Linked DNA regions of Homo sapiens: region 1 is linked to region 2. A link means that fine-mapping ties the variant in region 2 to the expression of a gene that starts in the linked region. Tissue or cell type: whole blood. Region 2 holds a variant in brackets; the other region holds the start of a gene. All regions are shown on one strand. Distances are from middle to middle.

Region 1 (4,603 bases), 70 kb after region 2:
GCTTGGCTCACCACAGCGCTCTGGGGGTCCTGTAGCACCTGGGAGATGAAGGGGGGGAACAGTGGGGGAAGCTGGGCTGCCTAGACACAGGAACAGCAGGTCCTGAGCTGTTTGTTGGTGGGGAGGATTTTAAGTCTATGTCCACCCCAACTCCCCTACCCGACATGCAATCCTCCCTCTCCCTTCCCACTGGCTGATGGTATCGTATACCATCAGCAAGTGGGGCTCTGCTCCCTGGGATGGTGCAGGGTGGGGATCCCCTGGGATTCTGGACTTGGAAACCGCTGACTGTTCCATCACTTTTCTCTCTCTGGTTGGCCCTCTGCTGCCACCATCCCCCGAGTCCCATAGGAACTAGGATGTCTAACTGTTGGTACAAATGACCATCATAATGTCCATCTGAGTGACCGCTTCGGGAGATGGGCGGGCAAGATTGCCCTTGCTGGGTGAGAGCAGGTAGGGAAAGAGCTGAACCCCTTGAGCTAAGGCAGAAGGGCCACCTCAACTGGTGGGGGACTGGCTGATAAGAACCAGGGGACTCTCTGGGCTCATGTCAGCCCTATAGTCTGTTCCCAGGATGGGAAATAACCCAGATCCAAGGTTCCAAAGGTTATGGGGCTTGCAGCACAGCCAGGTCAGGATGGCCGTGAGTGGAGGAGCCCTGACCTGTCCGCATGGCCCCAGATCTTGCAGCCCCGCTATACTTCCTACACACCAAGACTGGCACACCCGGGTGCGGCGGAATATCCCACCACCTGGGCTGCCCATCTCAGCACTGTGCCAGGCCAGCTGCCTCTCTGGGAGTCCCCGGGTCTAGCCCCGCCCCACCCCGGGGCCGCCCCGACCGAGGTAAACAGAGGCTAAAAATAACCTGGGCAAGGGGCGGCTGCAAGGGAGAAGGGGGTCCCTTCTGAGCCTGTCCTTGTCTCCATGGCAACTGCCCCCAAACCCGGCGGCTGACGTCATCTCGCAGCTGCCCAAGCGTATAGGAGGGAGGGGGAGCGGCACAGCCCCGGACCCCCCACCCCGGAACCGGGCGGAGGCTGTCGGGTGGCCTCACTTCCTGCCGGCCCCCTCCCTGGTCAGCTGGTTACATTCCCTGGCCGCGCGCTGGGAGCCAGGCGGCCTCCCCCGGGCCGGGCCTGGCCAGGGCTGAGTCCGAGCGGCGACGCAGAGGGGCCGCCGTGACTCACCCGCGCCCTCCCCGCCCGCTTCTCTCAAGCGGGACCCAGCCCAGAGTCCTGAGTCCTCCCCTCACCCGCACCCAAACCCAGACCCCTGGGGCGGCTCACCTTGCTCCTCTCTCCCGCCGCAGTCACAGGACCCAAGCCGGAGAGGGCGGTGGAAGAAGGAGCTATGCCAGTCCTCCTTGTCCCGCTGGAGTATTTTGTACCTCAGCCCCCAATTATCATTCCTCTCCTCCCTCCAATACCACGGAGGTGGGTGTCGCAGGGGCAAGGACTCAGATCTAATCCTCGCTTCTCCCAAACCAGCTGTGTGACCTTGAGAATACTACTAACCTCTCTGGGCCTGTTTCTGCATCTGCCAGATGGTCATAACCCTCCTCAGATGCTGTGCGTTGGCCGAATGCGGCAGGCCCAGGGCGCGGCCCCGCAGACTGCAGCCAGGGCACAAGTATTGTTACACGAGGCTGCGCACAGTAGGTGCTGGGGCGGCCAGCCTGGACACACGTTAGAACTGGCTGGGGAGGGTCTGTAGGGGAGGCCGGACTCAGGGCTCACCCTGGAGAGGAGGACAAAGGGTGCTGAATCTGGACTGAATCCGACCTCTAGCCCTGGTGAGCAGCCCCTTGCCCAAACCAGTTCTGCAGAGAGCCCAGGCCCGGCTGTTGCAGGAACCTTGCGCCAACCTCCATTTCCAGGGAAAAGCTCCGTTCCCCGACAAGGACGATCCTCTCCGGCTTCGGCTACGCCAGGTTTGGGCGGAGAGCCCGGCTCCAGCCCAGGCTCGGTCACCTCGGGGCCGGCCACAAAGCCGCTTAGGCCGGCCCCTAGAGCTAGGAGGATTAGCTCAGCTCCTAGGCCGGCCCGCACCCTTCGTCGCCCCCTCCCCATTTCCAGCCCAGCCTCCCCTGCGGCGAAGGCAGCAAGGGCTCCCAGGGAGCGCGCGTGCCAGGGCCCAGGCTGGCGCCTTGAGCCCGCTCTCTGGCCTGGCCCATCCCAGCGCCCCGGGGCACCGGCCGCCAGGGCCTTGCCGTGGGAGGAAGGCAGCAGCGCCAGGCTCTGCAGGCCCGGAGGCGGCGGCTTTTGTGGGAGAAGCTGCGTTCTCCACGCCCGGGGGGAGGGGAGGAAAGACAAGGCGCGGCCGGGGTCCGGGAGATGGGGTGAGGCGGGACAGAGCCGCAGATCCCGGACCCACCGGGCGGCGCCGGCGGGGGGGCACCAGAACCTCCGCGCCTGCTCCCCGCCCGGCCTGCAGCCCCGGAAACGGCGCGGGACACTCACATGGCTGCGCTGGGCTGCGCGGACCTCGCGCTGTCCTTGCGCTCGGAGGTGCCCGGCCTGGTCGCGCCGCAGCTGCCGCTGTCGCCGCCGCAGGCGCCGGCCCCTCCCTCCGCCCGCCGCCCCGCCGCCCCTCCCCTGGCCCGCCGGGCCCCACCCCCTGCGCTCCCGCGGCTCCCGCACCCCTAGAGGCGCCCACGGCTCGCTCCGCCCTCTCGGATAACGGGGCAGGCCGGTGGCCCACGCAGCCCACCAGCTTGCAGGGAGGGCAGACCCTGGGGGATGTGAGGGAGGCTTTCTCACGCAGACCCTAAAACGGTGAGCGCCAGGGAGCCCCGCCTGCTTGTCCCCTCCCCAGATCCCTCGGGCTCTGGAGACCTTGCGGGCCCCCTGTCCGTGACCACCTGAAACAGGTCCTGGAGCTGCTACTGCTGGCTTAGGCTGGTTGGTGGAAAGGATCCAGGGCTGTTGTGAAGGCCTTGGGGAGTCCAGAAGCCGCCTGGCACCTTCTGGGTCCAGACGCTGCCCTTCAGCCCTGCCATTTCAGCCAGCCTCAGCGTCGCTGTAGAGGCAGGCCGCCCTTTCTGCCACTGTCTGGCTGGTAAGTCCAGGCTCATAGCCGGGTCATGCATTCCCCACTCATTGGGTACTGGTTTTCGGGCAGTCTTGGGGTGGGGACGCTGGCAGGGTCCGGGTACAGGGCCATGTGTTGGGCAACCCAGTCCTTTCCAAAGCCGGGGCTAGAATGCTGGCCCTCCACACAGTCGGTAAAGGTGGGGCTGAGAGTCGACCCCATGTTGGGGTCAAAGGGCCAGTTCCACTCCCCCGCTCCTCCCATCAATCAGACACCCCTGGCCCTTCCAACCTGGACACCCCTGAGGCTTCTCCAGGCCTTGCACTCCCGCAGCCCTCATGTATGTCAGACCTACCCAGGAATGGTTTCAGGGACAGTAAGAGGTCCCTGAATATCTGTACCCCGCCCCCACCAGTCCTGAGGGCTGTTTTTTTGTGTGTTTTGCTTGTTTGCTTGGTTTTGTTTGGTCGGGTTTTTTTTTTTTTTTTTTGAGACAGAGTGTCACTGTCGCCCAGGCTGGAATGCAGTGCAAGCTCCACCTCCCAGGTTCATGCCATTCTCCTGCCTCAGCCTCCCGAGTAGCTGGGACTACAGGCGCCCACACCACGCCCGGCTAATTTTTTGTATTTTTGGTAGAGATGGGGTTTCACCATGTTAGCCAGGATGGTCTCGATCTCCTGACCTCGTGATCTGCCCGCCTTGGCCTCCCAAAGTGCTGGGATTACAGGCATGAGCCACCGCGCCCAGCCTGTTTGGTCGGTTTTTTAGAGATGGGCTTTCTTCATGTTGCTCAGACTGGTCTCTAACTGGGCTCAAGCGATCCTCCCACCTTGGCCTCCCAAAGTACTGGGATTACAGGCTTGAGCCACCTCTGCCTCACAGTTCTCCACTCTCCAGCCCCTCCTCTTGGGCTTCCTTTGTAGTGCCCTTTTCTTTCTTTCTTTTTTGTTTTTTTTTGGGGGACGGAGTCTCCCTCTGTTGCCCAGGCTGGAGTATAGTGGCGTGATCTCGGCTCACTGCAACCTCCGCCTTCTAATTTCTATATTTTTGGTAGAGATGTCCCGGCTAATTTTTATATTTTTGGTAGAGATGGGGTTTCACCATGTTGGCCAGGCTGGCCTCCACCTCCTGGCCTCAAGCGATCCACCCACCTTGGCCTCTCAAAGTGCTGGGATTACAGGCATGAGCCACTGGGCCGGTCAGTGCCCTTTTCTCTGAAGTCCTTAAACCTGGGCATGACTTCCAGGGGCTGAGTTCTTCTCTTTATTCACCCTACCCTAAAATATCATCCAGTCTCAGGGCTCCCATCCATTCACTGCTGACCATCCCAAACTTCCCTCTGTGCCCAGAGCCCTCTCCTGTTTCAGAGCCCCTGGCTGCTTTCTGGTTGACTCACCAGTCCTCAGCATTGTCCCCATCCCTACAAAGCACCACTGTCTACCCAGGCATCCACCTGAGCTAGAGACTGGGGTTTTCTGGAGTTCTCAAAGCTGGCACCAATTGGCCTCTGCCCACCCCTAAAGTCACCTCTCAGCCAGGCATCTTCTGAGTACTTTCTCTGCAGACA
Region 2 (5,404 bases):
TAAAAGAGGTCACAGAATTATAAACCAGGTAGAAAAAGAAGTGGTACAAAAGAGTACAAATAGAAACCAACTGTGCTTCCAAGAAGTTGAGCTGACAGAGTACTGTCTCACTGAAAAAAAACACATGGCATAAAGTCCACAAAACAACAGCATCTACTCGGTCTTAAAGCAATAGCTTCTATTTTTAATAGAGAAAAATCAGACACAAAGTAGCAAGCCATCAGCCTCTCAATACACTGCTCAGAATCTCAGAGCATCCCCGAGGTCAGGAGATCGAGACCATCCTGGCTAACATGGTGAAACCCCATCTCGACTAGAAATACAAAAACAAAATTAGCTGGGCGTGGTGGCAGGCGCCTGTAGTCCCAGCTACTGGGAAGGCTGAGGTGGGAGAATGGCATGAACCCGAGAGGTGGAGCTTGCAGTGAGCCGAGATCACGCCACTGCACTCCAGGCTGGGTGACAGAGTGAGACTCCGTCTTAAAAAAAAACAAAACAAAACACACACACACACACACACACACACACACACACACACACACACGGTGACAGAGTGAGACTCTGTCTTAAAAAACAAAACAAAACACACACACACACACACACACACACACACACACACACCCCTTAGTGCATTCCATCAAGCAGTGGATCTCTCCTTTTACTTTCTTTCCAGACGATGGGAGTCTCTCCTCTGAATCAATAAGTAACCAATAGGCTGGACCAGGTCATTCTCCCCACTCCCTGGGGACTGCGCTTCTAGCTGCCTCTCCCGACACTAGCAGCTCCAATCCATCTCCTTTCTTTACTGCTTTCAAATACTCAGTTCCTCTTAGTACAAAACATACCCACTCACTCTAATTCCTACATATTTTTTGGCTCTATGCTTGCTTGAGTCGCCCATGCCTTCTAGGTTTCATCAAATATTTTTTGTGGACCAATATCGCCACCAAAATGAAGTTTATATCACTCAAAGCGGTTTTAATTTACTTACAGGACACATTTTTTTTCCTCCAGATTACGAAAATCACCTAATATTCTGATGCTGTTTTCTCAGCTATTCAGTTAAAGGTATATATTTTGTATATATATGAAATCATACTATATATGGAATTTATATACACTTCTATATATGGCTTTGCTCTATCTCAAAAAATCTGTCCTTATGACTAGGTGTGATGGCTCAAGCCTGTAATCCCAGCACTTTGGGAGGCTGAAGTAGATCACTTGAGCCCAAGAGTTCAAGCCCAGCACAGGCAACATGGGGAGACCCCATCTCTAAAAACAAATTTTAAAAAACACACATTAGCCAGGCTAGGCATGGTGGCTCACACCTGTAATCCCAGGACTTTGGGAGGCTGAGGTGGGCAGATCCCTTGAGTCCAGGAGTTCGAGACCAGCTTGGGCAACATGGTGAAACACCATCTCTACAAAATATAGCCAGGCATGGTGGTGCATGCCTGTAACCCCAGCTACTTGGGAGGCTGAGGCAGGAGGATCATTTGAGCCTAGGACACAGAGGTTACAGTGAGCTGAGATTACACCATTGAACTCCAACCTGGGCAACAGAGTGAGACTCTGTTCCTCAAAAATAAAAAAAATAAAAAAAATAATAAATTTAAATATCTGTCCTTACTAAAAAGGACTCAACTCCCTCCTTAGCCCTCTGCGGCCCCTTTGTTTGGCCCACAGGTACCATCCATCAAGAACCACCAGAGTCAACCCAAGGGCCTTTCCCTCTTTCTAAATCTCAGTTTCTCTGGCATCTGACAAGATGAAACTCATCCTATTCCTTCATAAGCCTCTTTCCTCCCTTAGCTCCCTTCGTCTCTGAGTACTCTTTCACCAGCCCCCCTGAGCACACCAAGGCTCCGTAGCCGCCCATTACACTAGCCTTTTAACTTCCACTGTTTCTACACAGAGGTCTTTCCAATCCATATCTGCAATCCCAGTTTCACTGCCTAAAGGATCTACTAATGTTTGGCTGTCACCTTCAACTCAATGACACTGGACAGGGAATAAACAGAAACTCCAGTATACCCAATCCATCACTAACCAACTAAATGAGCTTGGCAAAGTGGGTGGTTTAGTCGTCCGGACTGTGGTATCACCATAAAATGGAGCTCCTAAGACCAGATCCTTATTGTGTTTCTCTATCATCTAGGTGAAAAAGTGAAGCTTAGATAAAAAAATTTTATTATTCAGTCAACTTCTGTGTAGATGATGAACAGGAGGTTCCTCCAGACTGAGGAAGAACAATCCAGGCAATCGGGGATGAGGGGCTAAAAGGAAGGAAAACTGGCATCTTAATGCTTCTCTGCCCCTGCTGAATGGTGAGTGTGAGGATGCAAGGGCCTAGGCTCCAACACAGAGACCCCAGAGGCCTGTATCCTTAGGGGGCATGGATCAGTTCTTCCTCCTCTTGCTTCAGCCACTTATTTTTCTTTGAGACAGATTCTCGTTCTGTTGCCCAGGCTGGAG[C/T]GCAGTGGCACGACCTCGGCTCACTGCAACCTCTGCCTCCCAGGTTCAAGTGATTCTCTTGCCTCAGCCTCCTGAGCAGCTGGGACTACCAGCGCGTGCCACCAGGCCCAACTAGTTTTTGTATTTTTACTAGAGACGAGGTTTCACCACGTTGGCCAGGATGGTCTCGATCTCCTGACCTCGTGATCCACCAGCCTCGGCCTCCCAAAGTGCTGGGATTACAGGCGTGAGCCACCACATTCGGCCGCTTCAGCCACCGCACCCGGCCACTTCAGCCACTTCTTAGCTAGCTCTATGTTGCTTAAATCTTGCCCATTTATAACTCCCCTCAACCCCAATGCACGATTTAGTATCTGTCATCTCTTTTTTCCTACCACGCTCAACTTAACACTTGCTGTCTCTAATTCTTTCCTTACTTTCCACTCACCAGTTTGGTTTCTGATCCCCAATACTTTACGGAGCTGCTCTGAGGCCAGCAATGGCCTTTAATTGGTAAATCCACCGAGGCTTTTCTGTCCTCATCTGACTTGACCTCTCTGTGGAATTCAGCATTCTAGTCTAGGCTTTATCCCAGAATTATGCCAGACCATCAGAAAGCTGGGTATACTTGGGCCACACGGCCTTATCCCCTACAGAATTGCTTTTATCGAGTTTCACTTTGGCATCATGCCTTAGCTTACACTAAAAGATATGTGGGAGAAATTGCACTGGGAGTTAAATACTTGGAAAAGCTTTTCTTCAAGGAAATTTTTTTCTTTCATTGTGAAACCTATGTAACAGGATCATGTTGCCATTTTTTTAGCTGGCTACAGCTTGATTAATTTGTTGCCTCTCAAACCATGTAATAATAACTTTCTATTATAATTTGTATTTTCTGGTTTATTTATATCACTTATTATCTGTCTTTCCTAAATATTTCTTCAAGTTCTTTCTGGAACAAGATGGGCTATAAACTTGAAAGTGTATATACAATCTATTAAATAAATATAGGAAAATATACATAAACATAAAAAGATACAAGAAAAAGAATAACGTGAACTGAAAATGTGCAGGGTCTATTTGAAGATTATAAAACTCTTCCACTGGCCAGGTGCAGTGACTCACACCTGACTGCTAGGACTTTGGGAGGCTGAGGAGAGTGGATTGCTTGAGCACAGGAGTCTGAGACCAGGCCTGGGCAACACAGTAGGACACCATCTCTACAAAAACTTTAAAAAATTAGTCAGGTGTGATGGTGTATGCCTGTAGTCCCAGCTACCTGGAGGCTAAGCTGGGAGGATCGCCTGAGCCCAGGAGGTTAAGGCTATAGTGAGTAGTGATCATGCCTCTGCACTCTGGCCTGGGCAATAAAGTGAGACATGGTCTAAAAAAAAACTAAGAAAAACAAAACCAAAAAGAAAACAACCCTTCCCCTCCAGCCCCAAACTCCTCCAGGAGGCATTTAAAAAACCTCACTAAGTAGCGACACTATTATCTATATCCATAAAGCTACATAATTCATATAATGTGGTACTGTTACTACTATAGGCAGACAATTTAAACAGAAGAGAGAATCCAGAAACAAAGCCTAGCAAATAAAAAGCTGTCATTTTAAATCAGTAGGGAAAAGAGAATTACTGCATAAAAGGTACCAGAAAAACAGTTAACTATGTAGGAAAAAAACAGAAGTTATCTTTAATCCATTTGGAATGTATCTGTTGTATGAAACAAAGAAGCATTGGCAGGGCCAAGTGTGGTGGCTCACGCCTGTAATCTCAGCACTTCGGGAGGCCAAGGCGGGTGGATAATAAGGTCAGGAGTTCAAGACCAGCCTGGCCAACATGGTGAAACCCCGTCTCCACTAAAAATACAGAAATTAACTGTGCTTAGTGGCGGGCACCTGTAATCCCAACTACTCGGGAGGCTGAGGCAGACAACTGCTTGAACCCAGGAGGTGGAGGTTGTAGTGCGTCAAGATCACGCCACTGCACTTCAGCCTGGGCAACAGAGCGAGACTCTGTATCAAAATAAAAAAAAAAAGCATTAGTGGCCAGGTACAGAGACTTACGCCTGTAATTCAAACACTGAGAGGCCAAGGCCAGCAGATCGCTTGAGCCCAGGAGTTCGAGATTGGCTTGGGAAACATGGAGATACTCCATCAATACTAAAAATACAAAAAGTCAGCTGGGCATGGTGGTGTGCGCCTGGGGTCTCAGCTATTCAGGAGGCTGAGGTGGGAGGATCTCCTGAACCTGGGGAGGTTGAGGCTGCAGTGAGCCATGATTGTGCCATTGTACTCCAGCCTGGGCGGCAGAGTGAGACCCTGTCTCAAAATGAAACAAAACAAACAAAAACACACACAAAACTTTAAAAAGAAAAAGGTGAACAGCTTTCTAAAAATGAGGAAGGCTTTGTGCTTAGAAGCCTAAGTAATAAGAGAAATCAGAGGAAATGATTGAGATTTTAAGCACCATAAAATAAAATTAAAAATTCCAGGCTGGGCACAGTGGCTCACACCTGTAATCCCAGCACTTTGGGAGGCCAAGGTGGGTGGATTCCCTGAGGTCAGGAGTTGAGACCAGTCTGGCCAACACGGTGAAACCCCATCTCTACTAAAAATACAAAAAAATTAGCCAGGTATGGTGGCATGTGCCTGTAATCCCAGCTACTCAGGGAGGCTAAGCCAGGGAAATTGCTTGAACCAGGGAGGTGGAGGTTGCAGTGAGCCGAGATCGTGCCACTGCATTCCAGCCTGGGTGACAGGGCGAGACTCTGTCTCTAAATAAATAAATAAAATAAAATAAAATAAAAATAAAATTATGTATGACAAAAACATGTTGAACAAAAACTAAAAAGAAAATGGCCAACCATGAAAAAAATATCTGCAACATCTATGACAATGGATTAACCTCTTTATCATATGTATAACTGTAAAATTTACAATGAA

Evidence for each region. PIP is the estimated chance that this variant, and not a neighbour inherited with it, causes the effect.
Region 1: it holds the start of RIPOR1, and the variant in region 2 is fine-mapped to the expression of RIPOR1 in whole blood (INTERVAL, PIP above 0.99).

Annotation. Positions count from the first base shown.
Region 1 is chr16:67,526,777-67,531,379 of GRCh38, reverse strand. It overlaps RIPOR1 (RHO family interacting cell polarization regulator 1), which reads right to left and starts at 2,551. Exons shown (of 22, transcript NM_024519.4): 1 at 2,466-2,551. It overlaps LOC100505942 (a long non-coding RNA gene), which reads left to right and starts at 2,635. Exons shown (of 2, transcript NR_104656.1): 1 at 2,635-3,063. RefSeq lists silencers at 945-1,224, 2,225-2,454, 2,485-2,594.
Region 2 is chr16:67,596,435-67,601,838 of GRCh38, reverse strand. The region is part of intron 2 of CTCF (CCCTC-binding factor); the gene reads right to left. Among named protein-coding and RNA genes, the nearest start is that of CTCF, 37 kb to the right of the region's middle. The variant C/T (reference allele first, on the strand shown) is at 2,479.